Linked DNA regions of Homo sapiens. The protein of the gene in region 4 purifies or fractionates together with the protein of the main gene of each other region. This does not show direct contact. Each region holds a gene or a part of one and is shown on either strand. Other genes may lie near its edges. The genes, in order: SVIL, MYO5C, MYO5B and SH3BGRL.

Region 1 (7,851 bases), on a different chromosome or scaffold from region 4:
CTCAAATGATCCTCCTGCCCAGGCCTCCCAAAAGGTTGTGATCACAGGCATGAGCCCCAGGGCCCGGCCTCTCTTTTGGGATTCATTTTTAACTAAGAGCATAACAGCAGGACAGGGGGATGGTGGTGGGAAATGTTCACTTCATTAGTTCTGTCAGCAACTATCTTTTCTCTAACATTCTTTTGGTGCTAGAATTATTCATAATGATGCCCAGACTGGCCACATGCCTTCTGAATGAATGAATATACTCTGCATTGCATGAAAAAGCTTGTGAATGTCTAGTTGAGTGCTTTAAAAGAGAGGTGATTGTTGTATCTTGAACTAAATAAAAAGCATAAATAATCGTGAGTGCTCTTACATTTTCAGACGACAATGAAATTACAGCGTTTGGTCAATAGGTGTCTGTATGCCAGGAACCTTCCCCCACAGTCCGTGTTCTGGGCGTGTACATGAGGAAAGCTTACTGATTCAAGGGACCAGGCTCATTATGCCCTAATGCATGCTGGTGGTGGATATTAACGCATTTTTCTGTGGCTTCTGGGTATTTATTTAGTCAGAAGGGACCCATTCTCCCCCAGGATAGCATCTGACCCCTGCCAGCTTTTACAGGGGTAGAGTTAGTTTTGCACCTCCTGGGCATACATATGCAAATTGGAAACTCAACTCAGGATCATCTGACAAGTAGTTGACATTAGACACCAAAATGCTTTTTCACAAGTTATTCTCTCTCAGGTCAGTTTCCATTCACTGGTAATCTGTGATCTACGCATGCTTTCCTCCTGTGAGGCCGTTACTGCACTTTGCAACTTAAATCCTTTTTCTTTCTTAAAGAGTTAAAGTTAGAGAAAAATTGGTGAAAGAGGAAAGTGCTCGAAACAGCCCTGAACTCGCCTCAGAGTCCGTAACTCAGAGGAGACACCAGCCAGCGCCAGTCCATTACGTGTCATTTCAGTCTGAGCACTCAGCCTTTGATAGGGTCCCCAGCAAGGCAGCAGGCTCTACACGACAGCCAATCCGTGGCTATGTCCAACCCGCAGATACCGGTCACACCGCCAAGCTAGTGACGCCAGAAACCCCAGAAAATGCATCTGAGTGTAGCTGGGTAGCATCAGCCACCCAGAATGTCCCCAAACCTCCCAGCTTGACGGTTCTAGAAGGTGACGGAAGGGATAGCCCAGTTCTCCATGTCTGCGAGTCAAAAGCAGAAGAAGAAGAAGGGGAAGGAGAAGGAGAAGAAAAAGAAGAAGATGTGTGCTTCACTGAAGCTCTCGAGCAAAGCAAGAAAACCCTACTGGCTTTGGAGGGTGATGGGCTAGTGAGAAGCCCAGAAGATCCCTCTAGAAATGAGGACTTTGGTAAGCCTGCTGTGAGCACAGTCACCTTAGAGCATCAGAAGGAACTGGAAAACGTGGCACAACCCCCTCAAGCTCCGCACCAGCCCACTGAGAGGACAGGCAGGAGCGAGATGGTTCTCTACATTCAAAGTGAGCCTGTGTCCCAAGACGCCAAACCAACTGGTCACAACAGGGAAGCCTCGAAAAAGCGCAAGGTCCGTACCCGCTCTCTGTCAGATTTCACAGGCCCCCCTCAGCTCCAGGCCTTGAAGTATAAGGACCCAGCTTCCAGGAGAGAGCTGGAGCTGCCCAGCTCCAAGACCGAAGGGCCTTATGGGGAGATCAGCATGCTGGACACAAAAGTCTCTGTCGCCCAGCTCCGAAGTGCGTTCCTGGCATCTGCCAACGCCTGCAGGAGACCTGAACTGTAGGTGATGCTTCACACGCCCTCCAGCTGTGTCACTTGCACGTCCCTGGCAGAATGATTCACTCCTCGACCTGTGTTGTGTTCTGCATTGAATCATATTAGCTTAGCTCACAAGTGCGTGCAGGGCGACTATGCGGAAAATGGCTCAAAAACTACCACTCTGCTTCTGCCTACTAATGGGGAACTAGTGGATTGGGTGTCTGGAATGTCTCCTTCCTTACGTGCATGGTAGAGGCATGAAGAGGGGTTTGGTGGTGTCTGTCCCTTGACTCACGGAGATGCATAATCCTTTGCCATCTTCTCTTTCTCTGTCTTCGTTTGCCTTCCTTATACTCTCTGCCCTTTGATTCTCAAAGCAAATCACGGGTGGAGAGGTCGGCTGAAGGACCTGGCTTGCCCACCGGTGTGGAACGGGAGAGAGGGTCCCGGAAACCAAGACGCTATTTTTCTCCTGGTGAAAGTAGAAAAACTTCCGAGAGATTTAGAACCCAACCTATAACTTCAGCAGAACGAAAGGAATCGGATAGGTAGGCATGCGTATGCGCAGTTTCCTCATCCAGGAACGTGGCAATGACACAGGAGTTTTACCACACTGACGGTCTTGACGCTATTTATATAGGATGTTGGCGATTCCATAATTGTTCCATCTAACCTATAAGCGTTATTTATTTGGCTTATTTAAAAGTCTTTTTAAAGAATATTAGCCTTTACAGCGGTATTATGATACATACACAATTTTACATTGCATTCAGATGATAAGAAGTAAGAAACATTATTTTTCTTTATTTAATGGTTTTAATGTTTTTTACCCCTTGTTAAATTAGACTCCAGATTGCATATTCACCAGATTTTACAGTGAAAATAACTGAGGAATTTTATATTCATTTTATAAATGTCCATCTACTTGTTGTATTTGAGTTTTATACTGAAGTGTCATATACTATTGCATAGAAATGGTAAGATTTGTCTGGAAAATTGTCATCAGTGGTGTTTAACAAGTTGTTCTTGTGCCTGGTCTCTCTCCACGGGGTGTGTACTTGGCTGGGATTGTGTGCACACACGCTCCACAGTGTTGCTTCACAACTGTATGTGTGTTTTCACAACTAGAATTGCTACCAGGAGGTTATTTCTTAAAAGAATTTAATTGCATTTTTATTTTTACTTTCAGTATGATGTTTTATTTCGATCTTCTGCTCCCACCTGCTAATGTATTATTGTTATTTGCTAATGTCTTTCCTAGGTGCACTTCACATTCAGAAACGCCAACTGTCGATGGCAAGTACCTGTTTCCCTTTTTTTTCTTCTTTATTATCTCATCTAGACTGGATTTAATAATAAGGTTTTTGGCTTTTTGAGAGAGTAAGATGATGGAGCATAACAGTGTCTCCCTTTGCTGCAGGTTTTCGTTCTGTGGATATGATAAAATCTAGTTGAAATTTTCAGACAAGCTTTCCCTTCTTTTTGAGAGCAGTTAGAGAATCATACAGTGACCAATGTAAAAACAACTAATTCAAACCAAAGGAGCAGGTTCTTCTTGTTGTTGCTGCTGCTACTATTTAAAACTAAAAGAAATTCCCCCCATAAAATATATTCATGAAATCTCGATCAGACAAACGTTAGAGTAGAAATCCCTGGACAGAGTTTGCTTTGGTTTGGCTGGGTTGAATTGCAAGGGAAATTAGTACCTTTTCACTGAGCAGAAAGAATGGGCTCCCTGCAAGGGGAAACTACCACCAATTATTATTTTAGTGCACCTATTGTTGTATTCAAAGATTTCCAGGTCAGCCCTGAAAGACTTTTTGGAGACCGAACTTAACCTTCTCTAATGATGTCCAGTTTTTAATTTGTGGCTTTTTGCAGATGAAGAAAAGGTGGATGAACGAGCCAAGCTGAGCGTCGCCGCCAAGAGGTTGCTTTTCAGGGTAAGCTGTGCTGACGTGCTTGAATAGAGATCCCTACTGGGTGCAGTAATCCCAGCTATTTGAGAGGCCAAGGCAGGAGAATCACTTGAGGCCAGGAGTTTGAGACCAGCCTGGGCAACACAGTGAGACCCCCATCTCAAAAAAAATAAAAATTGTAAGCCTTAGGGAGGGGGAATCTTGTGGACCCAGCCTACTTCATGCACCTCTGGGCATGCTAAGGCCCTCCTGCCTCTGGCCCACCTGTTGTTCTCTTCCTAATCTTTGGCTGGTTGTGGCCACCTCATGGACACAGCATGAGTGTACACTTCTGACAACAATACGAGGTGCTCATTAGTGACCCCTCCTGTAGGTCCTGTAGGAGAACAAAGTGAAGAATTTTTACTACCCCCATTTCCTTTCCTTGAATTTCTTTGTTATTTTTAATTTTTTTTTAGAGATAGGGTCTCACTCTCTCACTCAGGGTTGAGTGCAGCAATGTGATCATAGCTCACTGCAGCCTCAACTTCCCAGGCTCAAGTGATGTTCCCACCTCAGCCTCCCAAGTAGCTGGGACTACAGGCCTGTGCCAGCATGCCTGGCTAATTTATGCATTTTTTGTAGAGATGAGGGGGTCTCACTTTGTTGCCCAGGCTGGTCTTGAACTCTTGGCCTCCAGCAATCTTCCCTCCTTAGCCTCCCAAAGTGCTGGGATTACAGGCGTGAGCCACCGTGCCCAGCTCTTTCCTTGAATTTATAAGGGTTCCACAATACTTCTAATCTTAGGAGATGGAAAAATCTTTTGATGAACAAAATGTTCCAAAGCGACGCTCAAGAAACACAGCTGTGGAGCAGAGGCTACGCCGTCTGCAGGACAGGTCCCTCACCCAGCCCATCACCACTGAAGAGGTGGTCATCGCAGCCACGTAAGTGCCCACAGGACTTCTCAGCCTTGTCTATAGTGTCTTTTTTTAAAAAAATACATTTAAAGAGTGTTCAATGAAAATGAGGCATTGGGGAGGTGATTTAGCTAGAAGCCACAGAGAAGTTAGTACTAAGGGATTTTGTTTACTGTGGTCTCTCTAAACTTTGTAATGGGATGTGTATCTTCTAGAAAAACTTGAAAGGAGTTTTTGTTCTATTTTGTTTCTGTCTCTGCATATTGATATTTTAAAAATCTCTTTGACAACGGAAAATAGAAACATGAAACTTGGTGGATTGCTGTGATGAAACCCCAGCTTCCACGGTCACCCGCTCCTGGCCGGTGATGCTCAGCCCGTGTGCCATTCATTTCCCCTTTCCTCCTGTGCTATTTTCAAGCAAACACTAGAGGTCTTACCATTTCATCCATAAATATCCCAGTACGCCCCTCTAAAAGATAAGGTTTGTTTTGTTCTTAATTGCCAGAAATCTCTTTTCTTTTTTTCTTTTTTTTTTTTTTTTTTTTTTTTTTTTGAGAGAGAGTCTTGCTCTGTCACCCAGAACGGAGTGCAGTGGCATGATCTCGGCTCACTGCAACCTCCGCCTCCTGGGTTCAAGCGATTCTCCTGCCTCCACCTCCCGAGTAGTTGGGATTACAGGCATGTGCCACCACACTCAGCTAATTTTTGTATTTTTAGTAGAGACGGGGTTTCACCATGTTGGCCAGGCTGGTCTCAAACTCCTGACCTCAGGTGATCCATGCCTCAGCCTCCCAAAGTGCTGGGATTAATTGCCAGAAATTTCTAAAAATTAAATTGCAGTTTGATAACTTTCCAAACAATAGGAAGTTTGTTTTGAATAATATGTTTCAATATATTCAGAATTAATTTCCCAGAGTAGTTCATTCAGAGATCATTGCTTCAATCAAGTGAAAAATTTTCTTATTTTTGCGGGGGGCATTGTTTGTTTTTTTGAGGCAGTGTCTCACTCTGTTACTCAGGCTGGAATGCAGTGCGCCATCTTGGCTCATTACAGCCTCAACCTCCTGGGCTCAATTGACCCTCCAACCTCAGCCTCCCAAGTAGTTGGGACTGTAGGCCCAACCACCACACCTGGCTAATTTTTGTATTTTTTGTGGTGATGGGGTTTTGCCATGTTGCCCAGTCTGATCTTAAACTCCTGGGCTCAAGCGATCCTCCCACCTCAGCCTCCCAAAGTGCTGGAGCTACAGGCGTGAGCCACTGTACCCAGCCTAGTTTTGTTGTTGTTGATGTTGTTAATTGGTTTTGTGCTTACCTTGGACACACAGACACCCTTCCTGGAAAAAAAAATAGTTCATCCCATTAGGTTATTGACATCCCAAAAGGCCTCTATGTCAGTGCCCCGTTCTGTAGACCTGCTGTTAGATCAGCTGCCTACAGTTCCTCCCCGAGTTGTTCCTCAGTTTCTTGGTGCATTTGTAGCTAAGTATATCCTTGCACTCATTAGGAACTCTTTGCAAATCAGTTTGTTTTTTAAAAAAAGAAATATTTGAATGGCTGGTGTAAAATAACAGGCAGATACCCATGGGAGCAAAACAGTAAATATAAGAAAAATTAATCCCATTTTAAGGCTCAATAAATCTACCTTGATGTGCCTATAGATTGTATAAGAACACTGATACTTTTAAAAAGTAGATTGAGGCCGGGTGCAGTGGCTCACACCTGTAATCCCAGCACTTAGGGAGGCAGAGGTGGGTGGATCACCTGAAGTCAGGAGTTCAAGACCAGCCTGGCCAACATGGTGAAACCCCGTCCCTACTAAAAAATACAAAAATATTGGCCAGGCATGGTGGCGCACGCCTGTAATCCCAGCTACTCGGGAGGCTGAGGCAGGAGAAATGCTTAAACCCAGGAGGTGGAGGCTGCAGTGAGCCGAGATCGCGCCACTGCATTCCAGCCTGGGCGACAGAGTGAGACTCTGTCAAAAAAAAAAAAAAAAAAAAAGGCTGGGCCCAGTGGCTTACACCTGTAATCCCAGCACTTTGGGAGGCTGAGGCAGGTGGATCACGAGGTCAAGAGATCAAGACCATCCTGGCCAACATGGTGAAACCTCATCTCTAATAAAAATACAAAAATTAACTGGGCGTGGTGGTGCGCGCCTGTAATCCCAGCTACTCAGGAGGCTGAGGCAGGAGAATCACTTGACCCCGGGAGGCGGAGTTTGCAGTGAGCCAAGATCATGCCACTGCACTCCAGCCTGGTGACAGAGACAGACTCCATCTCCAAAAAAGAAAAAGAAAGAAAAAAATTAGATTGGAAACAATATTCTAAAACACAGACATAATCTACTGATTTTTTGATAGCTAATATTTGCTTTTTTGAATTATTATTTTTTTTACACCAAGACATGTATTCTCAAGACAGAGTAAATCCTCCCAGCTCTGAACACCTATTCTTACCCCATTTGCTTTGGGTAGCCACTATCTCTTATTTCCTGAGTTTGTATTTGCTTTTGAAGTTCTTTCGTGATTTTTTCTCCCCAAAAATAATTAGCAAAATATTCTGTTAAAATTTTTGATTTAACGTTTCTGAATTTAAAACTATGCTGTCCTTAATGCTTCTTTTCTTCTCTCTCCTTATGAATGTTTCCTCTTTGGCAATTGCTTTTAAAGTGAACCTATCCCCGCTTCGTGTTCTGGGGGCACCCACCCTGTAATGGCGAGACTTCCTAGCCCCACTGTAGCTAGGAGCGCTGTGCAGCCTGCCAGGTACTGGACAGATACAGATGCATGCGGCACCCGGTGCAAAGGTGCCGAACAGCAGATGCATCCTAAAGTCTTGAATGTCTGTCGTTTGTTTGACAAACAAGTCAATGCCGTGAGTTGTTCCAGAATGCGTGGCATTTTGTTTTGTCATAGCACAAGGTGCTGATAACCACATGCTGGCGTGCGTGGGAAAACATTTTGTCTCTCTGCATATGTTATGTGTTAGAACTAGGATCACACTAACTCACGTATCCAGTTGCTTTGTTTGTTTTTCATAATAATGGTCATCCCTCAAAAATTTTGTTCTTCATCTAAATACTGTTATAGCACTTAATAAAGATTAATAGAAAAATGGGACATTGGCCAGGCGCGGTGGCTCATGCCTGTAATCCCAGCACTTTGAGAGGCCAAGGCAGGTGGATCACGAGGTCAGGAGATTGAGACCGTCCTGGCCAACATGGTGAAACCCTGTCTCTACTAAAAATACAAAAATTAGCTGGGCATGGTGGCATGTGCCAGTAATCC
Region 2 (7,851 bases), on a different chromosome or scaffold from region 4:
GGAGGTTGCAGTGAGCTGAGATCATGCCACTGAAGTTCACTCCAGCCTGGGTAAAAGAGCAAAACTCCATCTCAAAAAAAAAAAAATCTATAAAAAAGAAATCAAACAAATTTATTAGGAATGTGGCTCTCTTTCTCAGAGTTTTTCCCTTTGTGCTATAAAAGCAAGTTTTAAAAGGAACTGAAATGACAGCTCAGCAGGTAGAATCATTTAGTAAACTCATAGAGCTCCTGGCACTGCTTCAAGGGCCCCTGTGGGCTGTGTTGGGCTTGTCTAGGTTATGTATCTCTTTTCAATTATTTTCTTAGTTAATCATCAAATTTTTAATTGAGCAACCTTCTAGAGCAGTTGGATTTACATGCACTTTTGGGCACGTGGATTTGCTGCCATTTATTCTAGAATTTTTGAAGGGCTAGACCCCTGGACATAGCAGATAGCTCTATTGTTTAGGATCAAACAAACCTCCAGCAGGATCCTTGGAACGAGGAAGGAGCCAGGACTTAGCAGAGCACGCCAAGGTATTCGCTGAAGGAAACTGGCCCTTCCAGGGGACTGCATGGAACCCGGGGGGTTGGGAATACAGTGCCCCAAAACCCAGTGTGTCTTTTAAGTTCAGCCTCCCTAGCCAGTGTGCCCTGTGCGTGATCACTGTAAAGCCACACCTTTCAAATCAGGAGGTGTAAGAAGTTGTCTTTAACCTAAGGGAAGAGGAAACAGTTTGCTAAAAATAAGGCCATTACCTGCTGGAACTGTCACAGTAGGTTCTAATTAACTTGTCTCCTCTTGTTGTTTTCAAAATGATGTATTCTAATTCAAAGTAAAGACTGTAGAGACAATTCTAAATTATTTTCTTCTTTTTTAGGGGGTGTTGTGGGGAGGGTCTCACTCTGTCACCCAGATTGAAGTGCAGTGGCACGATCTCAGCTCACTGCAGCCTGGACCTCCTGGGCTCAAGCGATTCATCCACCTCAGCCTCCTGGGTAGCTGGGACTACAGGCGTGCTCCACCACACCTGACTAATTTTTGTATTTTTAGTGGGGACGGGGTCTCTCTTGTTGCCCAGGCTAGTCTTGAACTCCTGGGCTCAAGGGATCCGCCTGCCTTGGCCTCCCAAAGTGCTGGGATTACAGGTTTCAGCCACCATGCTCAGCTCTAAATTATTTTCTTCTTTTGCTGCGTAGGCTTCTTGAAAAAAGTTTTGAACTGAAAACACAAGACTATGAGAAGCAGATTCAGTCTTTGAAAGAAGAAATTAAAGCTCTCAAGGATGAGAAGATGCAACTCCAACACCTGGTGGAGGGGGAGCACGTCACTTCTGATGGCTTGAAGGCGGAAGTGGCCCGCCTGAGCAAGCAGGTCAAGGTAGAGCGGCTCTCACGTTCAGCCCCGCCCTCTGGTTACGTCATTTGATTGCAATTCCAAGTTCCCACAGATTAGACAGCTAAAAGCATCTGTGTAAAGGCCACAGGCAACTGGAGCCTGATTCCTTCAGTCCTTCCAACTGTGCACCTCCAGGCTGCCTTTGATTTAGCAATCATTGTATTCCATATTTTAAAAGTCAACTTTCTAACTTTTTTGAAATTACATTTATGTAAAGTTATTTAAATATGTCGATGTAGAGAATACTCCCAAATTAGACTGTAAATTGAGGTGAATCCTTATTATATAATCCATCACTATAAATCTATAAACACCTGCATTAAAGTTAAGTTACCTTATTATCAAAATCTTTCATTTAAACTGTTATTAGAAAATTTACTAAAACAATTATCCAATGCACAGTGTGGTGAATGTAGTTAATAAGAGCATATTGTACATTCAAAATTGCTATGAGTAAATCTTAAATGTTCTCACCACAAAAAATGACAAGTATTTGAGGTGATAACATGTTAATCAGCTTGAATTATTCCACAATATATTCATAAATTATAACATCAATAAAGCTATAAATTTTCAATGGTAGAAATTTTTAAGTAAATTTTTATAAAGCTGAGAAGGAAAAATCACATAGAATTTTTAAAACTGCATAATGATATATAAAAATATTGTTACCTGCCGGGCACGGTGGCTCAGGCCTGTAATCCCAGCACTTTGGGAGGCCAAGGCAGGTGGATCATGAGGTCAGGGGTTCTAGACCAGCCTGACCAACATGGTGAAACCCTGTCTCTACTAAAAATACAAAAATTGGCTGGGCGTGGTGGCAGGTGCCTGTAATCCCAGCTACTCAGGAGGCTGAGGCAGGAGAATTGCTTGAACCTGGGAGGCGGAGGTTGCAGTGAGCCGAGATCGCGCCACTGCACTCCAGCCTGGGTGACAGACCGAGACTCCGTCTCAAAAAAAAAAAAAATTGTTACCTGTATCTATCATTAAAAATATATAAATATTCCTGGGCAATTTAATAAAATGCTCTAGAGAAAAATGAATGAATGGATGAAGTAATGATCCATGCTTGGACAATCAAGGCTTAAGTGAATTGTTTCCCTACCAGAAAAGTTAAACCTGAGTGTACCTACGTTCTTAAATGTAAGACATTTCATCATTAAGTTGGAAAGCTTTTAAGCTTCTACTAAATATGTGAAATACATATTAGTAGAGTATTTGTAGGATTATGGAAATAGTCTCTGTAATTGTCATGAACTAGCCATGCGTGGTTTAGAAGAGCTTTTGGAATTGCATCCGGGTGGCCACTGAATTCCACAACTGAAGTGTCTGTCTTTTCTGGGCCCCGTCCCCTATTGTTTAAAAGTAGGAGGTCAGACCACATGATCAGGAAGGGTCACTTTCATTCCTGTGACTGCTTCACTCTTAGCAGCCACATGAGCCTGATGTCAGTCAGTCTGTGGGAGTCCTGTCATCTGGCTGAGGTCTGAGGTCTGTATCTTAAATGTAGGAACTTGTGAGACTGCGCTTGCAGAGAGGTACCAGTAGGTGTCACTCACTTCCTCTTTGGTAGCTAAGACTGGTTCACTCTCCAATGTGATCCATTAAGATTACTTGGGGCTGGGCACGGTGGCTCAGGCCTGTAATCCCAGCACTTTGGGAGACTGAGGTGGGCGGATCACGAGGTCAGGAGATCAAGACCATCCTAGTTAACACGGTGAAACCCCATCTCTACTAGAAAAAAAAAAAAAAATTAGCCGGGCGAGGTAGCACACACCTGTAGTCCCAGCTACTCGGGAGGCTGAGGCAGGAGGGTCGCTTGAACCTGGGAGGTGGAGGTTGCAGTGAGCCGAGATTGCACCACTGAACTCCAGCCTGGGTGACAGAGTGAGACTCCGTCTCAACAAAAAAAAAAAAAAAAAAATTACTCTGGGTTTTTGTGTTTTGTTTTTTGGGTTTTTTTTGAGACAGAGTTTTGCTCTTGTCACCCAGGCTGGAGTGCAATGGCACCATCTTGGCTCACTGCAACCTGCCTCCCAGGTTCAAGCGATTCTCATGCCTCAGCCTCCCAGGTAGCTGGGATTACAGGCATCTGCCACCACACCTGGCTAATTTTTTTTTGTATTTTTAGTAGAGACAGGGTTTCACCATGTTGGCCAGGCTGGTCCTGAAGTCCTGACCTCAGGTGATCCACCCGCACTAGCCTCCCAAAGTGCTGAGATTACAGGCGTGAGCCACCGTGCCCAGCCTACTCTGGTTTTCAAAGAAAATAACTCATGATCATCAAGTTATATGTGTTATAGTCAGTCTTAAAAGCCTAAGTAAATGCAAATCTGACTTGGAACATTTACTGAAACATTACAAAGAAAAGCATGGCCTTCAGGATTTGGATAGTCCTGAGTCCCCCATAAACCTGGCATGTGACCCTGAACGTGCCAGTCAGCCTTCAGTTAAATGTAGCTGCTGTTTGCTAATTGAGAAAAGATCACTCTACTTACCTCATAGGCCTGTTAGGAGGATTAGGTCTTCTAGGTAAAGTGCTCAGCACATATCAGTTTGATTCTCCTGCTTACTCTCTGTAGAAACAGGGGCTGGAGCCCTTAAATACTCAGGGTAACTGAAAAAATATCAAGGAGAGTTTATTCACCTCTGCTGTCCCTGAAAGTCCTTATATCTCCCTCAGATACAAAGCAAAAGCACAGACCTGTGATTCTTATTCAAGCTGAGCTCACAAGGGAGAATAAAGGCAGAATACTGCCTCTTCCCCACAACCAGAGCTGCCCAGGCCACCTCCTTCCCAACAGCCAGCTAACTCCCAGACCTCCTGGACTCACCAGTCTCTGCCACTGCTCCACATCTAAGCTGAGCTGAAGCCAAAACCCACAGTTATGAAGGTGGCAACTTTGCCCATGTCCTTGCACTCAATATTTTATTATCCATTAAAAGAGAATTTTAGCCCGTGATTTTACCTTTCTCAGTCTTCCCCCTGTCCCACCCCACCCCAAGCTTATAGTAGGTATTTTTTTTTCTTTATGTAACAGGGAAGTTAATTTTTTTTTTTTTCGAGGTGGAGTTTTGCTCTTGTTCCCCAGGCTGGAGTGCAATGGTGCAGTCTCAGCTCACTAAAACCTCTGCCTCCCGGGTTCAAGCGATTCTCCTGCCTCAGCCTCCCAAGTAGCTAGGATTACAGGCGTCTGCCACCATGCCTGGCTAATTTTTGTATTTTTAGTAGAGATGGGATTTTACCATGTTGGTCAGGCTGGTCTCAAACTCCTGAACTCAGGTGATCCACCTGCCTCAGCCTCCCAAAGTGCTGGGATTACAGGTGTGAGCCACCATGCCTGGCCCAGGGAAGTTAATTCTACTGATACAACCCATTAGATCTGGCATTTTGAGTAGTTAAGCATGCTTCAAGGCCAAGCTGTGTAGGCAGTGATGGTTTAACAAGATTTTAGCTAAGAAAGAAACTGCAGTGAGGATGTCTTGCATAGACACGCAACGCTGTAATTGTGTTCCCTTTGTCTTATATAAAGCATAATCGTTGTTTTTTCTTTACCTGATTCCGTCATTGCTGTGATTCAGACAATCTCTGAGTTCGAAAAAGAGATAGAACTACTTCAGGCACAGAAGATAGATGTGGAGAAACATGTGCAGTCACAAAAACGGGAAATGAGAGGTAATAAAAATATGAGTCTCTTAGTCCATGGGTGCAGACTGAATTTATCATAGCTGTGTCGCTGCTAAGGAAACGTGTCCTTTGGTATGAATTTGGTTGGACATATGGTAGATTGCTTAGTTGATAGGTTGAATAGCTAGTTGGTTGAATACCTGGAAGATTGGTTAGTTGGTTGATTGGATAGCTGGTGAGTTATTTAGCTGGAGACTGTGAAGCTAGAAAACTGGGCCCTGGAAAGGGAATGGGAAAAGATAAATCATCCACAAATGTAATATATACAACTCTGCCTTTCCCTTTCAGAAAAGATGTCAGAGATCACCAAACAACTTCTCGAAAGCTATGACATTGAAGATGTAAGAAGCAGGTAATCATTTTTGCATTATCAAACATTTTAAGACATGTAAACATGTAAAACGTGACAGAGATGATAGATTTTCTTATCTTCCTTATTTTGCAGGCTCTCTGTGGAAGATCTGGAACATTTAAATGAGGATGGAGAACTTTGGTTTGCTTATGAAGGACTAAAGAAAGCAACACGGTTAGAAATTCTCCTCAGGGATCTTCTTTATTTTTCAGAGATAATAAATAGACTATTGGAAAGTCCAAAGTTTACCTTACATAGATTGATACACAAATTCCTTATAGTAGAATGACTGAATAACCACTAGAAATATTTCTCTGAGAAGTAAGTAAGTAGCTTATTCATGAAGAGCAATCTCTTTGTGGGATAAAATGCCTAGTAAAAAACCCCATAACCCATACAGTGAAAACTGATTATCAAATAAGTTAGTTAATGTTGCCAGAAATATGTAGATACATTTAAATTTAAGGCATGTGCTGCATTTATTTAAATTAATAAACTTTATTTTTCACAGCAGTTTTAGGTTCACATCAAAGTTGAGCAGAAATACAGAGAGTTCCCATATATCCCTGCCACCACACACACACAACCTCCCCCACTGTCAACTTCCCAAACCACAGTGATGTGTTTACTATGACTGGTGAACCAACACTGACACGCCACTGTCACCTCAAGTCTATAGTTTACATTAGAGTTCACTCTTGGTGTACATTCTGTAGGTTTTGACAAATGTATAATGACTCGTATCCACAACTGTAGTATCATACAGAACATGTTTTGTTTTGTTTTGTTTCTGAGATGGAGTCTCGCTCTGTTACCCAGGCTGGAGTGCAGTGGCAAGATCTTGGCTCACCGCAACCTCCACCTCCAGGTTTCAAGCGATTTGCGTGCCTCAGCCTCCCAAGTAGCTGGAACTACAGGCATGCGCTACCACACCTGGCTAATTTTTGTATTTTTAGTAGAGACGGGATTTCACCATGTTGTCTAGGCTGGTCTCAAACTCCTGACCTCAAGTGATCCGCCCACCTCGGCCTCCCAAAATCCTGGGATTACAGGTGTGAGCCACTGCGTCTGGCCAGTATTTTTTAAACTATTAAGAGTGTAAAAATATAATAACTTCTAAAATTTTCTTCATTGTTAACTACATATTAACCCCCACATAATGCTTCCTAACTAGCTAGAAGATTTTATAATTAGGCATTCCTGATTCTGTAGCCTGTAACCGTGAGTGCATAAGTAAACTTGATGTACTTCGTGCACGGCTCTTGTTGTGGGTCTTCATAACTGCCTCCCAGCAGTCCATAAAACAGAACAAAGGCCATGTGGTTTATTTCTTGACCCCTCCTTTAATAGTGTTTTGGAGAGCCATTTCCAGTCTCAGAAGGATTGCTATGAAAAGGAGATTGAAGCTTTGAACTTCAAAGTGGTGCATCTCAGTCAAGAAATCAACCACCTGCAGAAGTTATTCAGAGAAGAAAATGACATCAATGAAAGCATCCGTCATGAAGTTACCAGGCTAACATCAGAGAACATGGTATGGTCTCAGCCAGGGGCCCCAGTCGTGGCCATCATACTAGAGTTGTTCTTTGTCAGTGGCGTCAAATTCAGTTTCTTGGCAGTAAAAGAGTGGATATAAATTACTTTTTCCAGAAGTGAAATAACTTGGTCTGGTGATTAAACTATAAAATGACTGCAGACCAGAGAGCACTCTGATACAAGAGTGTGTGTGTTCACCACAGGATGGCTGCAGGCGCTGTGATTGTCTGTGTGTGCGCGTAAGTGTGTATGTTTTAAAGCCTGTATATTTAAATCAAGCCCTAACCCCTTGGAAAGTGACCACAAAATTGAAGGGTAGCTCTTGAGACAGGAGTGTGTCAGAAGGCCAGTCCTGCTCATGCCTGAAATCTCACCTTTTTTTTTTTTTTTTTTGAGATGAAGTCTCACTCTGTTGCCCAGGCTGGAGTGCAATGGCATGATCTCAGCTCACTGCAACCTCCGCCTCCCAGGTTCAAGCAATTCTCCTGCCTCAGCCTCCCGAGTAGCTGGGATTACAGGCGCCCACCATCACGGTCAGCTAATTTTGCATTTTTAGTAGAGACAGGGTTTCACTATGTGGGCAAGGCTAGTCTCGAACTCCTGACCTCGTGATCCGCCTGCCTCAGCCTCCCAAAGTGGCATAAGCCACCGTGCCCGGCCTTCAAATCTCACCTTTTCAAGGGCTTCCTCTTCCATGACGTGCATTCCTAGCCACTGCATTTGTCTCATTCTTTCTTCCAACTCATGCCTACTGGCCTGGAGAAATGCTTTAGGAATCTCCTCATTCAAAAAGCCATCTCTGTCTTAACCCCACACTGCTGTGGCCATCACCCATTTCTTTGGGGTCTTAGTCAGACTTACAAAGACCCTCTAGGCATACTTCCTCCGCACACCTCCC
Region 3 (6,710 bases), on a different chromosome or scaffold from region 4:
TGGGCATGGTGGCACATACCTATAATCCCAGCTACTAGGGAGGCTGAGGCAGGAGAATTGCTTGAACCTGGGAGGCGGAGGTTGCGGTGAGCTGAGATTGTGCCATTGCACTCCAGCCTGGGCAACAAAAGCGAAACTCTGTTTCAAAAAAAAAAAAAAAATTTCCATGTCTGTCATCCTCACACATCTTAATTACTGAAATTTTGTAAGTCTCAATGCCTGCTAAGGAAAGCTTCCCACTTTCTCAAGGAGGGTCTTCCTTATTCATGGGCCTTTGCTCTTCCATATAAATCTTATAATGAGCTTGTCAGTTTTCACATAGAAACAGTTGAAATTTTGATTTTTAATCTATAGATCAACTTGGGGACAACTGACAAACTTTTAGTGGTATGGAGTCTTCGAATTCTTGTACCTAATTATTTCTCCATTTTAATGTTGTCATTGTTTTTCACTTATATTTTACAAATTCCTCCATACAGATCTTATGACTATTTCCCCACTGATTTTTCATGCCATCTCTACCGTATGCTATGTTATACATAGGATTGGGCCTATCCTTGCACTCCCTATTCTGTTTCGTTGATCTACTTGTCTTTGCCTACACCAAAACTGCCTTTAATTCCATAGCTTTAAAGTAATTGCTCAATAAGCCTTGTTATCTGAGAGTTTCTCCCTGCCCCCAACTTTTGGACTGTAAGATGCTGACCTCTGGTTTAAATGATCTTGACACGTATTAGAATATAGGCCCCATAATGAAGCTTCTCAAGAGAGCATTACAAAGAAACTTTGTCAACCTGTAGCTGCAGAGTTTTAAATTTCATTTAGATTTGGCACACCTCTTTATTCAAAAGTATTTATTTCCACAAATTTTTATCCACAGCTAAATATTACAGTGACTATTACAAGCATTTTTCTATAAACAAAGGTGTAGTTTACAGATTTGTGCAAAGTGGGAAAATATTTTCATCAGTAGTCTTTCTTCCATGGTGTTGGATTCACCCCTGAATATGATCTGAACTCTTTCAGAGAGGCAGTCCTTCATCTAAATGTCAGTTGGTGGCAAAATGTTATATTCAAATCTGGATTATTCTGATACAGTGTCACTTTAGAAAGTAGCTTAGTTTCATTTCTGATTGATCCCCTTTGTTAGAATTAGAAATTTTTTGAAAAACAATCTTTTGTATCTAATGACCTTTATAATAAAAAAAACCCTGTCCTGTGTTTCTCATTGGCATTAACCTCTGTCTACACCCTCTAATTCTCTAATTATGGCACCAGTGGGTATAAAAAGTGAATTATGGTTATTTGGCTCATGCAGCAAATTAATTGGAGAAACTGACCACAAATATTCTGTGAAGAACTACAAGGTCTTGCCCCATGCTGTCCCATTTTAGTGACCATTTAGTTATGCAGGCATTATACAAATGCCTCAATTTAGGACACCCTTGCTGTCTTAGTAGGTCAAGTGTATGAAAATTTACTTTATGCAGAAGAAATGAATTCTAATTTATTGGTTACTGGAATCTTAATGTATGAAAGCTCTAAGTAAATATTTGATGAATTGATGGTAGCAGTGTTGATTTTTAACTGTTCCAAGCTCCTAGTTTTGTTTTGTTTTTACAAAAGCCTTAAAATTTAGTACTAGGGAAATCAAAGGAAGCAACTCCCACTGACATGCTTCATGGAAAGGGGAAAAACATCTACCTTTGGGTCTAATCTGCCTCCCAGGTGAGCCTACAGGTACTGGAACTCTAACTGCAACTATGAGGGCACAGGGAAAATGCATGTATGTAATATGCTTGTCAGCTTCAGCAACAACTCATGTGTACATTCACATTTACTATAAGTAAACAGGTCCCGTATAATACTTAAAACACAAGTTTTGATCTATAAATATTTGATTCTTAATATTTAAAATGCTTCTAATGTTTTAAAAGACAAAACTCCCCCATGATATCACCTTGAACATTAAAATTATTCCCACAGCAACACTTATTTCAGAGAAACAACTGATGTCAGTTATCTTAGTAACCGCTAAAGGCACCTGGTGAAAAAAATGTCAACTAAATTTTAAATATTAAAAAATTAAAGAGACATCTAATGCAGAGTTCAAACCTGAATTGTTAAAGAGTCATTACTGATTTCATGACACTGATAAATGTTTGAATTGAAATGATTTTTTAAAATGCAGAGAAAATGCTAACAAAAGATTATATAGTTCCCCTAAAGATGCTTCTTCTAGCCTCCAAGTATTAAATAAGACAGATCTAAATATTAACTACATATAAAGTATATATTTGTTAGTCATCTGTAAGTTTTAAGTACAATTCCAGGATATACCTTTATCTTTTGGAAGAGAAGAACTAAATCTGCCATTTCTTAGGCTAAATGGACTATTCATAAGGTCCTTCCCTCCCCATTTATTCTAATTGCCAAGCTTTTATTCAGTAAGCTCTTGGCACCTAGTGATTAACCAGTGACAGCAGAGAGTAGTGACCAAGAGAGATGGAGAGAATGATGGTATAAGACAGTGTATAAGGATAGTAAGCCACTGTGTTTGTGGAACCACTGCATGTCAAAACTCCTTAACACTCTAACAAGGCATTTTTGGTCTTTTAAGGATGGTCCTTACATAAGAGACTCACTTTCAAACTAAAGTGCATTAAAAAACAAATTATCCTTCACAAACAACTTTAAAGAGGTAGCCACAAACCCAGTTGTTTTAGATTGGCCTTCTAAATGAAGTCAGCACATGGATCCATGGGTAAGTGTCATGGACGTCAGTGATTATGTAACTGTAACTGAAAGAAAAAGGCACAGCTCTGCCGATGCCCAAGAGAAGCCGGCATGTTTAATGTGGATGTAGAGGGGATAATGCCCATGACAACTGATTGGAACACAATGTCAGCAGCCTTAACCCAGGCTAAGACTGGCCTAAGCCCCAGGAGATGCAGAGAACAACTGAGGAAGCTGTGCTCTAAGGGCACAGTGCAGAAGGTAGCGTGGAGTGTGCTGTGTTTCCAAGAGCCTTTTAAGTTGGGTGGTTGAGTAAAAGAGGGTGAAGGCAGGCTGTTCTACTTCCAATTCATGGATAAATCTTATTTTCTCAATGTAATACAGAGGCTGTTCTTCCATGATTTGCAAATACCATTTTTTTCTTATGGGAACAGCATACTGCTATCAAGAAATACAGAAAAGACAGTAAAAAAAAGTGTGGAAAGAATATGGGTTTCCAATTGAATGCTTGCTTTTGAAGAAACCAAAAACAAGTTAAAAAAAATTCTAAGAGCAGCAAACATCTAAGCCTGTTATATTACTGAATTACTTTTTTAAAATCCTTATTTTGTGGGAGAGATATTTACAATTTTTTGTGTGCTAAATTTGAAAAACGTTGAAAATAACCTGAAAAGGGAAAGTTGACCTAAGCCATTTTATTCTCTTAAAAAAAAAAAACCCAAACTTTTGTATAATATCCCTGAACTGATTATTTTTGAAGGTTTTTCAGATGATCTGATGTGCGAACTTTAGTTTGTTTTACTATTTGGTTTCTGGAACAGTAGAGCATTATGTGATGCTCTTACTGGAAGCTTAATGGTATTAAGAGATTAAAAGCTTTCATATTGACTTGTTTGGTTTTTACATCTATAAATAAAACAAGTTTGTTATCCGTTTCTAATATTTAGCTTATATACATTTTTGTGAAAGTTTTGTGGGACTTGGAAAGTGTATGGACTAGCATCAGAAACAAAATATTTTTCCATCTTTCTCACTTGGAGTTTGGGATAGCAGCATTTTAATAATCTCTTCCATTAAATCAAGATAACACAAAAGCGTTTGAGCACACTGAGGACTGGCACTTCTAATTTTGCTTCAGAAACCAGTACTCAAAATGTCTGGTCTGGAGGTCAGTTACACCACTGTCTGTGTATAATCAGCCATTAAAAAATATTTTGGGAATATTTCTCAGAAGTCTCATCCCCATATTTTTGTTCTTAAAACATCTCACCACAAACTCAACCACACCTATGGTTTGCAAACTTTGGGAAATGTCAGTATATGCCATTATCATGGTTATTAGTACCATTATTTGTTAAAGCCCTTTGAAGGCAATTTATGTGACTTATATATATTTGGTATTTTAATTTGGACATTCTCTAGTTCTATGCAAAGATCAAAACTAGGCAGCTTCGTTTTATAGAATTGACACCTTTTATATGTCTATGGGGACTGCTTGGTGTCTATAAATTATGTATATGTGTTGGACTGAAATCAAACTTAAAATCTTCCATATTTCAAGTGTTTTTATTCTGAGCAGTAGGTACAAAAAATAATGACATAGTTGTGTCTAATTCTGTATAGTTCAGCACCCTCCACAGGCTGTCAATCTCTGATTTGATCTACTTTTACCAGATTTAACAGATCCTTGAATTTACTTTACTGTATATACTTCCTTCTTGCTCACATTGGGAATCAAACTAATGCTGGAAACATGCATCTTCAGACTTCATTGAGGAATTCCAGATTGAGACACGCTGGGATGTGGATTGAGTCCATGGTTAGAGAAGATGGATTAAATGGAAACAAAACAGGAAACATGTGCTTGGCATCTAATAGCAGTTGCTGAGGGTCATTCCGCTCTTGTAGTTGTGCCTATGGGGAAGAATAAGACCATGTAAAGTTTGAGTACCCCTAAAAATAGCCAGTTTAAGTGAATTCACAAAAGTGAGTTGGCATATATCATGGAAAGATTTCTACGACAATTAGGTAGAACTTCAGGACTAGGAGAATGTGATCTCCTCACCCTTGAGGTATTTAGTGGGGAGAGAAGCCCTGACTTAGGCTTCTTGGAGATCAGAGGGCTGTAAGCACTCTCCCAATTCTAGCATTCTTTAAAAAATTGTCTAAGGGAGAATATAAAATACATCTCAGGTGCAAACCATATGGAGAGGCACTATAGTGAAGTGGCCAAGGGCATGGGTTTTTTTTTTTAGGTAGACAGCTGAGCTCTAATCCTGGCACCACCCTGGGCAAATTCCTGAATTTTTTATGCCTCAGTTTCTTTACCTGTAGAATGGGAGAAGAGTACATCACATAAAATGGCAGAGTAGGAAGCCCTAGGGATTGGTCCCTCCACTGAAGCTACCTTGAAGTAGAAACAGTGATTGTCAACTATCTCATAACTCTGGAACTTGATTGGACATTTATAACAATCGGGAGACTGATTGGTAAAGGGAGAGGCTGCTGATCTTTGCTAAGGGAACTGTGTGTGTGACCCAGCTACTATCCCCCTCTCTTCAGCTCCCCTGAAGCTATGGGGATAGCAGCTCACATTCCTGGAGTAGCTAGCTGGCCAGGGTAGGCAGTGGGACCTTGTCCTCCAAAAATTTGGGGTTGTGCCCTTTGATCTGGTGGGTCCCAGCAGATGCCTGTCTTGGTTTAGACATTCCTTGGGATGCAATGGCTTCCACTAGTGGCATCAACTGGAAAATTTAAAGGCACAGAGCCCCTCCCTGCTTCCTATTTGAAGCCAGAAATTTTAGGAAAAGTACAAAAACTGAAATGAAAAATTCACTAGAGAAGTTTAACCGCAGACTTGAGCAGGCAGAAGAAAATCAGTGAATTTGAAGATAAAGCAATTGAAATGATCCAGTCTGAGAAGAAAATAAAAATAATGAGGTAAAAATGAACAGAGCCTAACAGACCTATTGGACACCATCAAGTATACCAACATACACATTACAGGAGTACCAGAAGGAAAAGAGCAAGAAGGGGGCAACAAAATATTTGAAGAAATAATGCCAGAAACTTCCCAAATCTGATGAAAGACATGTATGTAATCATCCAAAAAGTTCAATGAACTCCAAGCAGGATAAAGGCAAAGAGATTCACAGTGAAACACATTATACTAAATTGTCAAAACCCTAAGACAAAGAGGGAGTCTTGAAGGCAGTGAGAAAGAAGTGACTTGTCACATACAGTCATCCCTCAGTATCCATGGGGGATTGGTTCCAGGAATTCCCACAGATACCCAGATCCATGGATATGCAAGTACTGCTGTCGGCCCTGTAGAACCTATAGATAGAAAAAGTTGTCCCTCCATAACTACAGGTTCTGCATCCTGTGAATACTGAATTTTGAATCTGTGGTTGGCTGAATCTGCAGATATGGAACCTGTGGATATGGAGGGCTGACTGTATAAGGTATCCTCAAATAAGATTAACAGCTGTTTTTCATCAGAAACCATGGAGGCTAGGAGGCAGTGGGATGACACAGCTCAAATCCTGAAAGGAAAAAATCTTGTCTGCTAAGAATTCTAAATCTGGCAAAACTACCCTTCAAGAATGAAGGAGAAATTAAGTCATTTCCAGAGACAAAGAAGGACATTATATTTTAATAAAAGGTTCAACTCATCAAGAAGATATAATAAACATCTGCATCTAGCAACAGAACCCCAAAATATTTGAAGGGAGAATTGACAGACTTTAAGGGAGGATAGTTCTACAGTAATGGTTGGACATTTCAATACCCCATTTTTAATCATGGATAGAACCAGATAGAAGATCAATAAGAAAATAGAGGCCATGAACAACACTATAAACCAATTAGTCCTAACAAACACATATGGAACACCCCACTTAGCAGCATACACATTCTTCTCAATGCATATGGAACAGTCTCCAATATTCAAACAAGTCTGAATAAATTTAAAA
Region 4 (8,336 bases):
CTTTGCCTTCCACCATGATTGTAAGTCTCCTGAGGCCTCCCCAGCTATGCAGAACTGTGAGTCAATTAAACCTCTTTCCTTTATAAATTACCCAGTCTTTGGTATTTCTTTATAGCAGTGTGAAACAGACTAATACACACCACTTCACAGTGTATCAAACATAAAAATGCAAATGTACTTATAATCCCACTTAAATATAAATATTAAGCATATTCTAAAATTTGTATAACTTTGTTTTAAAATTTAAAAAATTTTCAGCCACAAGCAATTCATTAAAATATGCTCGACAGTGATTTCTCTGCAGAAACAGGAATTCTGCTTATGTGAGATAAAAATGTAAACTCCAAATTGTTTTCAAATGAAATGAAATTTTTACAAATAGTAAACTTAATATTCAATGAAGTTGACATGATAATGTTTTTCAGACAGTTCATTAAACATTTCTACACCATAATTTTGTAGTGTTTTGTAGGTAAATAATATTTTAACTTTCTCAAAAGTTTAAAAGTAGGTAAAATTTCTGCTTCTGGAAAAGGTGGGGATAGGTGATCTGGAACTCTCTTGATAAAGGGAATTTAAAATATTGGAAGGTATTTTATAATACATGAAAAATATCAAAGACCTCAAGAGGAAAGTGAGGAATTATCAGGGCGAGAAAAGAGGGTGAATTACAACTCCAAAGAGCTCAGTGATGATAAAGAGTGCTTCTGCTGAGGGGGTATTTGCTGATCAAGAAAATTCAGCTACTTTTGGTGTGGCAAATGAAAATAACTCACCTGGAGACTCTTAGTTCTGAGTGAGGGGTGAGAGCATAGCAGTGTCCACTTGAGAAGGGAAAGGGATGTCATACTACGGTAGTATAAGACAAATTATGTTCATTTTGCAAAATGAAAAAAAAAAAACAGAAGAAAGAGTCTCCTGTTGCATAGGCCGAAAAGTGCAATAGCAGTAGCCCTGATGTTGGCAATGAGGAGGGTGACTAGATCATGCTGACTTACTTTTGCCTGATTATTTGTATAAAGATTTTGAGTTGTGTCTAGCAAAGGCAAGAGTTGGATAAGTGGAGAGGGCAGAAAAGGTTATGAGAATGTGGGGAGAAGGTGAAGAAAGAAACAGGAAGAGCAAAGGCATGAGAGTGATCATAAGCATGATGATTGCAGCAGGTAGTCAACAATGATTACGTACATAGGGAAGTTAGTTTGGGGGAGCACTAAGTAAGATTGTATGAATAGTGTGGGCCTAGATTATGGTGAAAACTGTTTAGCAACATAATTTAGGTTTAGTTCGATAGTCAATGGAGAGCTAATTTAAGTATTTCTGCCTACGTTGTCTTCAGTAATATAAGAAAGTGGTGTTTTAGGATGAAAAAATTGCTAACTTTTTTTTTAGTACTTTCACTCTTCCAGGCAGTGAGTTAACAGTAATAGTTAAGAAGGTGGCCTCTGGAGGCTAGCAGCATCCTGATACCAAAGCCTGGCAGAGACACAACAACAAAAAAGGAGAATTTTAGGCCAATATCTCTGATGAACATCGATGTGAAAATCCTCAGTAAAATACTGGCAAACAGAATCTAGCAGTACATCAAAAAGCTTATCCACCACGATCAAGTTGGCTTCATCCCTGGGATGCAAGGCTAGTTCAATATATGCAAATCAATTAATGTAATCCATCACATAAACAGAACTAATGACAAAAACCACACGATTATCTCAATAGATGCAGAAAAGGCCTTCGAAAAAATTTAACAGCCCTTCATGCTAAAAACTCTCAATAAACTAGGTATTGATGGAACATATCTCAAAATAATGAGAGCTATTTATGACAAACCCACAGCCAATATAATACTGAATGGACAAAAACTGGAAGCATTCCCTTTGAAAACTGGCACAAGACAAGGATGCCCTCTCTCACCAATCCTATTTAACATAGTGTTGGAAGTTCTGGCTAGGGCAATCAGGCAAGAGAAAGAAAGAATGGGTATTCAATTAGGAAAAGAGGAAGTCAAATTGTCCCTGTTTGCACATGACATGATTGTATACTTAGAAAATCCCATTGTTTCAGCCCAAAATCTCCTTAAGCTGATAAGCAACTTCAGCAAAGTCTCAGGGTACAAAATCAATGTGCAAAGATCACAAGCATTCCTATACACCAATAACAGACAAACAGAGAGCCAAATCATGAGTGAACTCCCATTCACAATTGCTACAAATAGAATAAAATACCCAGGAATCCAACTTACAAGGGATGTGAAGGACCTCTTCAAGGAGAACTACAAACCACTGCTCAATGAAATAAAAGAGGACACAAACAAATGGAAGAACATTCCGTGCTCATGGATAGGAAGAATCAATATCGTGAAAATGGCCATACTGTCCAAAGTAACTTATAGATTCAATGCTATCCCCATCAAGCTACCAATGACTTTCTTCACAGAATTGGAAAAAACTACTTTAAAGTTCATATGGAACCAAAAAAGAGCCCACATGGCCAAGACAATCCTAAGCAAAAAGAACAAAGCTGGAGGCATCATGCTACCTGACTTCAAACTATACTACAAGGCTACAGTAACCAAAACAGCATGGTAGTGGTACCAAAACAGATATATAGACCAATGGAACAGAACAGAGGTCTCAGAAATAACACCACACATCACAACCATCTGACCTTTGACAAACCTGACAAAAACAAGCAATGGGGAAAGGATTCCCTATTTAATAAACGGTGCTGGGAAAACTGGCTAGCCATATGTAGAAAGCTGAAACTGGATCCTTTCCTTACACCGTATACAAAAATTGACTCAAGATGGATTAAAGATTTAAATGTAAGACCTAACACCATAAAAACCCTAGAAGAAGACCTAGGCAATGCCATTCAGGACATAGGCATGGGCAAAGATTCATGACTAAAACACTGAAAGCAATGGCAACAAAAGCCAAAATAGACAAATGGGATCTAGTTAAACTAAAGAGCTTCTGCACAGCAAAAGAAACTATCATCAGAGTGAACAGGCAACCTACAGAATGGGAGAAAATTTTTGCAATCTACTCATCTGACAAAGGGCTAATATCCAGAATCTACGAAGAACTTAAACAAATTTACAAGAAAAAAACAACCCCATCAAAATGTGGGCAAAGGATATGAACAGACATTTCTCAAAAGAAGACATTTATGCAGCCAACAGACATATGCAAAAATGCTCATCATCACTGGTCATGAGAGAAATGCAAATCAAAACCACAATGAAATACCATCTCATGCTAGTTAGAATGGCAATCATACAACAGATGCTGGAGAGGGTTTGGAGAAATAGGAATGCTTTTATACTGTTGGTGGGAGTGTAAATTAGTTCAACCATTGTGGAAGACAGTGTGGCGATCCCCCAAGGATCTAGACTAGAAATGTCATTTGACCCAGCAATCTCATTACTGAGCATATACCCAAAGGATTATAAATCTTTCTATAATAAAGACACATGCACATGTATGTTTATTGCAGCACTATTCATAATAGCAAAGACTTGGAACCAACTCAAATGTCCCAGTGATAGACTGGATTAAGAAAATGTGGCACATGTACACCATGGAATACTATGCAGCCATAGAAAAGGATGAGTTCATGTCCTTTGCAGGGACATGGATGAAGCTGGAAACCATCATTCTAAGCAAACTATCACAAGGACAGAAAACCAAACACCACATGTTCTCACTCATATGTGGGAGTTGAACAATGAGAACACATGGACACAGGACAGGGAACATCACACCCCGGGGCCAGTCGGGGGGTGGGGGGCTGGAGGAGTGATAGCATTAGGTGAAATACCTAATGTAAACAACGAGTTGATGGGTGCAGCAAACCAACATGGCACATGTATACCTATGTAACAAACCTGCACGTTGTGCACATGTACCCTAGAATTTAAAGTATAATTAAAAAAAAATAAGAAGGTGGCCTCTGGAGTTCCTAACTCTGGAATGTACTAACCATATGATTTTAGGAAAACTATTTTTCTGAGTTTCAGTTTCTTCATCTGTAAAATTAATGTAATAGTACCCACCTCTTGAGGTTGTTTTAAGGACAACATGTAAAGAGATTAATTTGGAATTAGTATTTAAGACAGATTGGAGAAGGGAAAACCTGTGGGTAGGGAACAGTTAACAAAGCTATTGTAAGCACTGAGCCTAGGCAAAGACAGTAAACCACTAGACTGGAGACAGTGGAAAAACAGCAAAGGAAAAGAAGTAGGACAAGCGACTGACTCCTCTCCACTCTCATTCATCTTGCAAATTCCTTTTTTTCTGTTCATTTAACATAATCTGGGAACCTAAAACTACACTTTGAAGTATATGGTCTGTCTCTGGACATTATTAACTGTTTGCTCATTTCCTTAGAGCTACAAATAACCATCTGATCTCTCTCTTCACCATTTCAACATCTGCAATATGTTCTCCCAAATCCCTTACTTCAGTCAGTTAAAAAGCAAAACAAAACAAAAATCATCCATCTTTTTACACAATATTTTCAATCTTTTCTTTGTAATTTATTCCTTCATTCTTAAACTTGCCAATCAGGCCTCCTGCAAATTCCCACGGAAGCAGGGTTCCCTAATTTAACAAAACACAAAATTCAAAAAGAAAACCAATCCTGCCATTTCTGGGCTTAAGGAAACCTGAAACTTTCCTTCAAAACTCTGCAGCATTGCTCAGTACTTTAGTGCCTAATTCCTACAACGAGCTAAGATCAGAAAAATCACTACGTAATAGGAATCTTAAAATGCGCAAGGCTTTGAGAACATGGGTTTTCAACATACAGCTTGCTCTTTCAGGATCTGTCTTCTTATTTGCATATATTTCTGAGCAGGAAGTTATGCGCAGTACTTTTAGTCTCCGCGTGAAAAGGTCCTTCATGCTAATCTAATTCAATTCAGTTCTCCTTTTTCTTTCTTCTTCTCCTCGCCCTCTTCTCAGGGAAGGAATCGTCAAAAATCAATGTTTCAACAGATCTCGCGGTGCTATTCGAGATTCCCTATTAAAAAAAAATAGAATTGATGCAAACAGCCTGTTCCTTCCGGGGTTTTGGGCTGGAACTGCAGCGCTTAGAGAGCTCGGTGGAAGCTGCTAAAGGCGGAGGCGGGGCTCTGGCGAGTTCTCCTTCCACCTTCCCCCACCCTTCTCTGCCAACCGCTGTTTCAGCCCCTAGCTGGATTCCAGCCATTGCTGCAGCTGCTCCACAGCCCTTTTCAGGACCCAAACAACCGCAGCCGCTGTTCCCAGGATGGTGATCCGTGTATATATTGCATCTTCCTCTGGCTCTACAGCGGTAAGGAGAGTGGGGAGTCCACCTTTGTTGTTTTCCTACACACCAGTCCTCTGCTGCCCCAGAACCATTAAAATGCAGAAGTTCCTCTGGCAGCTTCTCCTTTGGAAGACTCATGCATCCCCGATCCCACCCTTCTTCTTCCCTTTTTTCCCTTTGTTGCATCGATTTCATTTTTTTTTTTTTCCACATAGAGTTCAGCTTTGTTTGCTTCGTGACGTTGGGGGGCACATTTCTGCTTTGAAGGAAAACGAAAGCTACCAAGTTTTGGGAGATGGGAGATGGTGCTATACGGTCTTTAGGGTTACGTGAAGTCAAGTAAAATCGCACACTGGTGAGTTTCAAGAGTGAGACATTTGATGAATACGCCCTAAGTACTGAGACAAGGAGGAGTGCACTTCTGTAAAGGATGGGGGTACACATGCTGTAACTGGTGGGGATTGAGTGGAGGCCTACCGAGGCATTGTAATTATTCTGGGTGAGTGAGACCCTGGTAATAGAGTTATTTTGAGAGTGTGTAGAAGAAAGTGGTTAACTTGAGCTTGAAGGCCTGTTAGAACTAGACAAATTGGGAGGGGAAGTTGGTAACAATGACGTAAATTTTTTTTTAACTTAATATGACACGAGATTCAGTTTTCCCCCCATATTGTCCCTTATTTTGACTGTTTCTATTCTTTCAAAATATTTTACTTTTAAATTTCTCTCACTGCTTCAAGTATATTGAGAACTGGATAGGGAGCTCAGTGGCTTCTTGTGTAGTGGCAGCCTGAGTTGCTGCTGCTTCAAATGATAGGACTTTCTCTTTCATGGATTCACTTACTCTTAATTTAGAATAACAAATTTTCAGCAGCTGTCGGGAGAATATGATAAACTGGGGTGCAAGATGAGTGTATATCCATGATAAATGAAAGTGCTTCTGCTTTTTACAACTCAAGAGAAAGGCAGACAGTGGCAAGAACAGATGTGTGGGTTCAGATTGTAGGGTATAGGAACCCCTTCCCTCTTCTTGAGCTTTAGAGCAGCAGCTAATCCAGGTTGTTGTGTGTTTTTATTTTTTGGCTTGTTTATTTACACCTGAGAGGATGTGGAATGGAAGTGGAGGTTATGTTAAATCACAAGAACCTTGATATTTGAACTTTGTCTTCTCTGGCCACCATGTGTGGATATGTTTATGCAATTTTGGAATATCAGAAAATTTAATCTTACATTTTTTGAATAAGTTTAGGTTAAAAAAAAGAACACCTTTTATATTTCCTTTGGACCTAATTTTATGAGCCTCTTGCTTTATTATTTTCCATACATGTTGTCTAATATTTCAAAGTAAAATTTGAGTTGCTCAGAGTCTCAACTCAATCCAATAATTGTAAAGTCCAACTTAATGCCTTTAGTTAAACCCCTAATGAGACTGAACAGATCAGGCAGTTAGTTTTGCTTTGGGAGTCATACAGTTTCAATACTGTTATTTATTCTTTGCTTTCTCCTTCCTCTACCCCTTCTTTAAAAGTAGATTCAACAAGAAACTGCTTTCAGAATTTCTATTCAAGTAAGAATAACTGCACCTCTCTTTGTTAAGTCTTAAGTTTCCAAGAGCCTTAGAAATGGCTGCTGTCTTCTATTATTTCCTTTATTGGACTCCTTTTTTTTTTTATTTAGATTTCAACTTTTATTTTAGATTCAGAGGGTACATGTGCAGATTTGATGCATGGGTATACTGTGCAAGGTTTGGGGTACCATTGAACCTCTCACCCTGGTAGTGGGCGTAGTACCCAATAGGTAATTTTACAACCTTTGCCTTCCTCCCTCCCTCCTCTGTAGTCTTCAGTGTCTATTCTTCCCATCTTTGTTGGACTTTATTGTTGAAGACCATGCAAATGGCAGATGTTTATGGTATTTGTATTTTATTTCAATTTTTTGTCATGAGTAGTTAGAAATTTATTAGAAATTTATCTACTGTAGTAATTATAGTTCAATGAACCTGTTATCAAAATTCTACTTCATAATGCCAAAATAAATCCTTGCTTTATTATACTATTACAACACTTTTAAATAATACCAAAACAGTGTAAAGTGAGTACTTCTTTGTAACATGAATGGAGTGGTGATTATTTACTTCAGAAAGGCACTTTTCAGTTTGCTGTACTAAAGTTTTCCTTTAAGATTGATGCCCTGTTTGTTTTAATACATAAGTTAGAAAGTTTTGAGCAAATATCCTGATGGAGTCCTACAATTGCACATAGTGAGATACTTCAATAAGTGACTAAGTTTAGTTGTCTGAAGAACAGTTAAAAGCTTCTTTGCTTTGGATTGGTGGTAGCTGACTGTTTCTTAATCTTCCTACTGGTTGTCATTAAAAAAAAAAACAACAGATGTTATACTGGTTATACTGGGCAGAGTGGGGGATCTGGATCTGTGATAATTGGCAAGACAATGTTAACTTATTATGGTGGCGGGCGCCTGCAGTCCCAGCCACTCGGGAGGCTGAGGCAGGAGAATGGCGTGAACCCAAGAGGCGGAGCTTGCGGTGAGCAGAGATCGCACCACTGCAATCCAGCCTGGGCAACAGAGCGAGACTTTCTCTCAAAAACAAAACAAAACAAAAAAAGTGGCCTAATAGTGAAGAGTAGCACTTGCTTCTTGAAAGTTTAGAAATGAAAACAAGTATGTTGGTCTTTGCAATGGATTTCATTTTTTATTTTTATTGATATATCATAATTGTGCATATTTATGGGGGACATATGATCTTTTGATACATGCACACAATGTGTGATGATCAAATTAGGGTAATTAGGATATCCGTTACCGCAAACATTTATCATTTATTTGTGGTGGGAACATTCCAAACATTCTAGCTGTTTTTTCTAGCTATACAGTAAATTATATTGGTAACTATAGCCACCCTATTGTGCAATTGAACAGTGGATCTTATTCCTTCTATCTAACTGTATTTGTGTACTCATTAACCAACCTCTCTTAATCCTTCTTTCCCCCTACCCTTCTCAGCCTCTGGTAACCACCATCCATTC

Evidence for each region.
Region 1: the proteins of SH3BGRL (region 4) and SVIL purify together in Homo sapiens (affinity purification with mass spectrometry; 2 studies listed by BioGRID and IntAct, with this or other methods). This does not show direct contact.
Region 2: the proteins of SH3BGRL (region 4) and MYO5C purify together in Homo sapiens (affinity purification with mass spectrometry; 2 studies listed by BioGRID and IntAct, with this or other methods). This does not show direct contact.
Region 3: the proteins of SH3BGRL (region 4) and MYO5B purify together in Homo sapiens (affinity purification with mass spectrometry; 2 studies listed by BioGRID and IntAct, with this or other methods). This does not show direct contact.

What each region holds. Positions count from the first base shown.
Region 1 is NC_000010.11:29,526,439-29,534,289, reverse strand, and holds part of SVIL (supervillin), read left to right. Parts: intron 1-831; coding exon 832-1,761; intron 1,762-2,117; coding exon 2,118-2,288; intron 2,289-3,001; coding exon 3,002-3,036; intron 3,037-3,621; coding exon 3,622-3,683; intron 3,684-4,445; coding exon 4,446-4,585; intron 4,586-7,233; coding exon 7,234-7,329; intron 7,330-7,851.
Region 2 is NC_000015.10:52,222,644-52,230,494, reverse strand, and holds part of MYO5C (unconventional myosin-Vc), read left to right. Parts: intron 1-1,181; coding exon 1,182-1,362; intron 1,363-3,878; exon of another isoform or gene 3,879-3,997; intron 3,998-4,936; exon of another isoform or gene 4,937-4,962; coding exon 4,963-5,056; exon of another isoform or gene 5,057-5,286; intron 5,287-5,356; coding exon 5,357-5,420; intron 5,421-5,513; coding exon 5,514-5,594; intron 5,595-6,770; coding exon 6,771-6,951; intron 6,952-7,851. UniProt on the Homo sapiens protein: May be involved in transferrin trafficking. Likely to power actin-based membrane trafficking in many physiologically crucial tissues.
Region 3 is NC_000018.10:49,821,974-49,828,683, forward strand, and holds the end of MYO5B (unconventional myosin-Vb), read right to left. Parts: intron 4,651-6,710; coding exon 4,498-4,650; 3' UTR 816-4,497; downstream 1-815. UniProt on the Homo sapiens protein: May be involved in vesicular trafficking via its association with the CART complex. The CART complex is necessary for efficient transferrin receptor recycling but not for EGFR degradation.
Region 4 is NC_000023.11:81,196,930-81,205,265, forward strand, and holds the start of SH3BGRL (adapter SH3BGRL), read left to right. Parts: upstream 1-5,172; 5' UTR 5,173-5,271; coding exon 5,272-5,316; intron 5,317-5,507; exon of another isoform or gene 5,508-5,647; intron 5,648-5,662; exon of another isoform or gene 5,663-5,791; intron 5,792-8,336. UniProt on the Homo sapiens protein: Appears to function as an adapter protein that bridges proteins together or proteins with mRNAs. May function as a ubiquitin ligase-substrate adapter.